Linked DNA regions of Homo sapiens. The protein of the gene in region 1 interacts with the protein of each later gene in a biochemical or structural test. Each region holds a gene or a part of one and is shown on either strand. Other genes may lie near its edges.

Region 1 (3,655 bases):
AGCCCGAAAGAATGCCTTTAAGATCCTAGTTGTCATCACGGATGGAGAAAAGTTTGGCGATCCCTTGGGATATGAGGATGTCATCCCTGAGGCAGACAGAGAGGGAGTCATTCGCTACGTCATTGGGGTAGGGAATGCAGCTCTCAGGTTGATGCTTCTGTGGAGGGTTTCTATGTGGATCCATCCTCCCTTCAATTTGCAAATATTATTAAAATCAAAGTGACATGAGAGCTAATGCTAGCTCATATACACCGTATCAGCTATCTGTTGCCACATCAATGCTGTGTAATAAACTATCCCAAAATTCAGCAGCTTAAAATAATAAGTAAGCCTGTGGGTCAGCCTGCCAAGAGTTCTGGTCTCAATGGCCTTCCTCACTGTCATTAGCTACAGGTTGGCAGGCTGCTCTGCTGATCTTGGCCAGGCTCTCTCTGTTTCTGAGGGTTGCCAGCTATGTCATCTGCTGGACCAGATGGCCTTGGGTGGAACCACTGGGGTGACTTGGCCCTTTGGCAACCTGGCTCTCATTCTCCAGGGCTAGCCTGGGCATGTCCTCATGGTGAAGGCAGGGGAGCAAGAGAACAGTGGAGATGTTGCAAGTGCTTTTTTACGCCTCTGCATCATGTTTGATAACATCCATGGGTGTCACGAGCAGTGCAAGGTTAGCGATAACCAGGTCCATGCAGGTTTGTGTTTTTCCACAACATCTTTCGCTGATGCTATTTCAATCACAAACGCCACAAGCTGCATGGAATTCCCAAGGAGGCAGTTCTTCTTAGTGCATCCTGTTCCCTCAGACACTCTGGCTCAAGCCACCCACAAGTCAGTCAATATTGCAAACCATATATAATAGTATACTTAATCAATATATAAGTTATAGGTTAAACATTCCACAGCAAACAAAGTAACATTTAACATCAGAAGAAAAAGAAAGAGGAGAAAGGATGAATGAAAAGGACTCCTGGTCTGGGCCCAAGGGTCCTGGTCCTGTTAGTCTTGCAAGGCAGAGTCTTTGATACGGCAGAGCCCTCGGCAGCAAATGCCAGGCTCTCATCATGAGCGACTGCGAGGTGTGAGTTCCAACAGCTGCTTTGAGCTGCTGAAGGCCTGATCTCTTCTAGTCACAGAGCTGTCTGGTGAGAACAGACAGAGAAGAATGTGCTTGTTTGCATCCTTATCTGGTTGGATGTAGTCTTTATTTGTTTATTTTATTTATTTATATTTATTTATTTATTTATTTTGAGACTGAGTCTTGCTCTATCGCTCAGGCTGGAGTGCAGTGGCATGATCTTGGCTCACTGCAACCTCCACCTCCTGGGTTCAAGCAGTTCTTGTGCCTCAGCCTCCTGAGTAGCTGGGACTACAGGCATGCACCACCATGCCTGGCTAATTTTTGTTTTGTATTGTTAGTAGAGATGGGGTTTCACCATGTTGGCCAGGTTGGTCTTGAACTCCTGATCTCAAGTGATCTGCCCGCCTTGGCCTTCCAAAGTGTGGGATTATAGGCATGAGCCACTGCACCTGGCCTATTTAAAAAATTTGTTTAAAACGACCTTATCCTTGTTGGCAAAGTGCCCTGTGAAATATAGAATGGAGCCTTTTTCTAAGATGGAGTCAGTTATGTCAAGGGTGCTCTGTATACAATGGGCTAAAGCAAGACTCATGTCTGAGCCCAGAGGCAATGAAGGGGGCAGATGACTCCACCAAGAGCAGGAGGGCACAGCAGAGTGCTGGGGGAAAGGGCTTGGATACAGGAAGAGGCAAGGAGTCAGGATCATCAGTGTAATCAAACTACTACAGCACCTGCATGACACAGAAAGCGATATCACCATGGATACATGCCTTGGCACGTAGGACATACCTTCATATAAAGAAAAAGGCTCCCCTTCCTCTAGGGGGAGGTCAGCTCCATACCAGGAGACGTGGCACAGCAGATGGATCAGCAGCCGGGTTTCTGCCCCAACTTGCTTCCTTGGCACAGTGCCTTGTGCAGTGTACAACCTGCCCAACTATACCTGGCAACCCTGTCCCAGGGACCTTCTGATGCATTTCCTCACTTGATAAATAATGGTTCAGACTAGTTTCCTGCAGAATTGTCTTTGCCAGATGATATTGCTAGCCTCACACCATGATTTAGCCTCTGTTCCTTGGTAACAGGTGGGAGATGCCTTCCGCAGTGAGAAATCCCGCCAAGAGCTTAATACCATCGCATCCAAGCCGCCTCGTGATCACGTGTTCCAGGTGAATAACTTTGAGGCTCTGAAGACCATTCAGAACCAGCTTCGGGAGAAGATCTTTGCGATCGAGGGTGAGTCAGGCATCTGTGTTCCCAGAGCAGCTCCAGAGGCAGCCCCCCACCCCAGAACATAGTCCCCTCTAGAATCCAGACCTTCCTAACCCTTGGTATCCCCCAGCATCAACTCTCTCCACTTCCTACAGCTCCCAGTCCCAGCCTCACTTGGTCAATTCCTTTGAAGTCAAAGAATCCATACTTTTATCTGTAATTTTGCAAATCTTGGCTATAGGCTGGTAAATTGGAGTATGGGGGAGTCAAATCCCACCCAGTATTTTAACAAAAATTTGGATGTGTTGCCAGCTGTCGTCTGTTCGGTTCTCTGTTGTATCCCAATTGCCTAGAATAGTGCCTGGTACTCAGAAGGTGCTCAATAAATGTTTGTTGAATAAAAGGAATTTAGAAATTGGGGGATTTCATAAACAGTCTGGGTTTATGGCTTATCTTGAAAAGCTGGAAGATTAGACACCTTGAAGACCGCATTCCCACTTGGCAGGATGTTGCTGGAGGTGAATGGCTGCCATCCTTCTAAGAGGGACGTATGCTGTCCAGCTTGACACAGATCCTGTCGGAGTCTCCTTTGTCTGTGGCCACCAGAGCACTTGGGTTTTCAGTACCTGTTCTAGGTTCTTCTGCTTTCTTTTCTTTTCTTTCTATTTTTTTTTGAGACTGAGTCTTGCTCTATTGCCCAGGCTGGAGTGCAGTGGTGCGATCTTGGCTCACTGCAACCTCTGCCTCCCAGGTTCAAGTGATTCTCCTGCCTCAGCCTCCTGAGTAGCTGGGATTACAGGCGCATACCACCACGCCCAGCTAATTTTTGTATTTTTAGTAGAGACGGGGTTTCACCATGTTCACCAGACTGGTCTCTAACTCCTGACCTCAAGTGATCTGCCCATCTCAGGCTCTCAAAATGTTGGGATTACAGGCGTGAGCCACCATGCCCGGCCTTCTGCTTTCTTTAATATAGAAACTTCTCCTCTTTACAGGTACTCAGACAGGAAGTAGCAGCTCCTTTGAGCATGAGATGTCTCAGGAAGGCTTCAGCGCTGCCATCACCTCTGTAAGTGGCCCTTCATTAAATTGCGGGGGTGGGGCAGGGGGTAGCAAGAAGAGATAGGAGAGATGTGGGGGTTTGGGGACTCTTCTCTGTGATAGATACTTGGGAAGTAGCTCTGTGAGGGGCAGCGGTTGTCCCTTCTTCCTTCCTCATCAACCCTGTTCTACACCTTTCCCAGAATGGCCCCTTGCTGAGCACTGTGGGGAGCTATGACTGGGCTGGTGGAGTCTTTCTATATACATCAAAGGAGAAAAGCACCTTCATCAACATGACCAGAGTGGATTCAGACATGAATGATGCTTACT
Region 2 (3,153 bases), on another chromosome or scaffold:
CACCACGCCTGGCTAATTTTTTGTATTTTTAGTAGAGACGGGGTTTCACCGTGTTAGCCAGGATGGTCTTGATCTCCTGACCTCGTGATCCGCCCGCCTTGGCCTCCCAAAGTGCTGGGATTACAGGCGTGAGCCACCATGTCTGGCCTGGCCAGGCTGGTCTTGAACTCCTGACTTCCGGTGATCCATCTGTTCTGGCCTCCCAAAGTGCTGGGATTACAGGCATAAGCCACCACGCCATGCCGAAGCCCAGCTTGTTTTTAATTTTTTTTTTTTTTTTTGGAGAAATGAGGTCTTGCAATGTTGCCCAAGCTAGCCTTGAACTCCTGGCCTCAAATGACCCCGCCTTGGCATCCCAAAGTACTGGGATTACAGATGTGAGCCACCATGCCCCAGCCTTGCTTTCTTGAGATACGATTTAGAATACCATAAGATTCATCCCTTTTAAGCACATAATTCAATGACTTCTGTACAAACAACCATGACTACAATCTAATTTTAAAATATTTCAATCACTCTAAAAAAGAAACCTCCTGCTTATGTACAGCGACTCTGTCTACCTCTTAAGTGAATTCTCCTACCTTTAATAGCCCTATTTTACAGTTCAGGAAACTGAGGTTCAGAGAGACAAAGTCACTTACCCACAGCAAAGAAGCAAGGCTGGGTATCAAATGCAGGACCCCCCCGGTCCTGATGCTTTTTTTTTTTTTTTTTTTTTCCTCTGAGAGAGACTCTCACTCTGTCACTCAGTCTAGAGTACAGTGGCGCGATCTCAGTTCACTGCAATCTCTGCCTCCTGGGCTGAAGTAATCCTTTCCTCACAAGTAAACCTCAGCCTCTCAAGTAGCTGGGACTACAGGCACACAACACCACGCCTGGCTAATTTTTGTATTTTTAGGTAGAGACGGGGTTTCACTATATTGGCCAGGCTGGTCTTGAACTCCTGACCTCAGGTGATCCGCCTGCCTCGGCCCCCCAAAGTGTTGGGATTACAGGCGTGAGCCACCACACGCAGCCTTTTTGTTATTAGACTCTGTCATTACTGACTTTTTTTTTTTTTTAATAGAAACAGGGTCTTTCTTTCCCAGGCTAAAGTACAGTGGCATGATCACAGTTCACTATAGCCTTAAACTCCTGGGCTCAAGTGATCCTCCTGCCTCAGCCTCCCAAGTAGCAGGGACTACAGGTGTGCACCACCACACCCAGTTAACCATTCATTCATTCATTCATTCATTTATTTTGAGATGGAGTCTCGCTCTGTCACCTAGGCTGGAGTGCAGTGGCACGATCTCAGCTCACTGCAACCTCCACCTCCCAGGTTCAAGAGATTCTCCTGCCTCAGCCTCCCGAGTAGCTGAGACTACAGGCGTGCACCACCATGCCAGACTAATTTTTGTATTTTTAATAGAGACGGGGTTTCACTCTGTTGGTCAGGCTTATCTCGAACTCCTGACTTCGTGGATCCACCCTCCTTGGCCTCCCAAAGTGCTGGGATTAAAGGCGTGAGCCACCGCGCCCTGCCAACCTTTTTTTAATTTTTCTTAGAGATGGGGGTCTCCCTATGTTGCCCAGGCTTGTCTTGAACTCCTGGCCTCAAGTGACCCTCTTGCCTTGGCCTCACAAAGTGCTAGGATTACAGCCTGAGCCATCACACCTGGCCAACAGGTTTTTTTTTTTGTTTTGTTTTGTTTTTTAAAGAATGTCTAGGCCAGGCTCATTTACTTTCACCTGTAATCCCAGCACTTTGGGAGGCCGGGGTGGGCAGATCACTTGAGGTCAGGAATTCGAGACCAGCCTGGGCAACATGCTGAAACCCCGTTTCTACTAAAAATACAAAAATTAGCTGGGTGTGGTGACACGTGCCTGTAATCCCAGCTACTCAGGAGGTTGAGGCAGGAGAATTGCTTGAACCCAGGAGGCAGAGGTTGCAGTGAGCCAAGATCATGCCATCACCCTCCAGCCTGGGCGACAGAAGGAGACTCAGTCTAAAAACTTAATTAATTAATTAATTAAAAATAAAAATACAAAAATTAACCTGGTGTGGTGGTGTGTGCCTGTAATCTAAGCTACTCAGGAGGCTGAGGCAGGAGAATCCCCTGAATCCCAGAGGCAGAGGTTGCAGTGAGCCAAGATCGAGCCACTGTTTGCCCAGTCTAGTGCACTGGGCTGCTGAATTTATTTGACCAGACACCTAGCAATAGACTTTGAAGTTCTTTTCCACTTTTCACTCTAAGATGCTGCTGTCATGAATAAGGAATATTTTGATCCCCTTCACAAACACTCGGGGCCCTCTTACCAGTTTTCACTGAAGATCTTGACATTCCTATCTGCTTAGGTGTCTGGGCGTGTTTGGGGGAGATACTGAAGAGGTAGGGCTCCCAGGCAGGTGCAGTTCGTCTGTTAGGCAGGCAGCAAGGTCCACTTCACCAGACACCCCCACCTCTGTTTTCCTGCAGGGACTCCAGAACGGGTGGAACTGGCACCCCTCCCCTCTTGGCAGCCAGTGGGCAAGAACCTTACCCTACGCTGCCAGGTGGAGGGTGGGGCACCCCGGGCCAACCTCACCGTGGTGCTGCTCCGTGGGGAGAAGGAGCTGAAACGGGAGCCAGCTGTGGGGGAGCCCGCTGAGGTCACGACCACGGTGCTGGTGAGGAGAGATCACCATGGAGCCAATTTCTCGTGCCGCACTGAACTGGACCTGCGGCCCCAAGGGCTGGAGCTGTTTGAGAACACCTCGGCCCCCTACCAGCTCCAGACCTTTGGTGAGGATTGAAGAAGCCAGCAGGGAGAAGGTGGGGGTGGGGTATCCTGCAATGCGGTGCCTGTGGCCACAGGATCTTTTGAGATGGGTGTGGCCCCGGCTAAGGGGTGCATGTGTTCTAGGCGTATGTGACCTAGGCTGCTGAGTGGCCCTGGAAGAGGATCTCGCAGGAGGGGGAATGAAATGCCCCAGAGAAGGGCTTCGGGACGTCCATCCCTGTCTGCTCACACCTTTCTTCTCTCCCTAGTCCTGCCAGCGACTCCCCCACAACTTGTCAGCCCCCGGGTCCTAGAGGTGGACACGCAGGGGACCGTGGTCTGTTCCCTGGACGGGCTGTTCCCAGTCTCGGAGGCCCAGGTCCACCTGGCACTGGGGGACCAGAGGTTGAACCC

The links.
Region 2: the proteins of ITGAM (region 1) and ICAM1 form a complex in vitro, tested with the Homo sapiens proteins (one study listed by BioGRID).

The regions. Positions count from the first base shown.
Region 1 is NC_000016.10:31,273,392-31,277,046, forward strand, and holds part of ITGAM (integrin alpha-M isoform 2 precursor), read left to right. Parts: coding exon 1-127; intron 128-2,157; coding exon 2,158-2,308; intron 2,309-3,279; coding exon 3,280-3,353; intron 3,354-3,528; coding exon 3,529-3,655.
Region 2 is NC_000019.10:10,281,025-10,284,177, forward strand, and holds part of ICAM1 (intercellular adhesion molecule 1 precursor), read left to right. Parts: intron 1-2,296; exon of another isoform or gene 2,297-2,426; intron 2,427-2,456; coding exon 2,457-2,762; intron 2,763-3,008; coding exon 3,009-3,153. UniProt on the Homo sapiens protein: ICAM proteins are ligands for the leukocyte adhesion protein LFA-1 (integrin alpha-L/beta-2).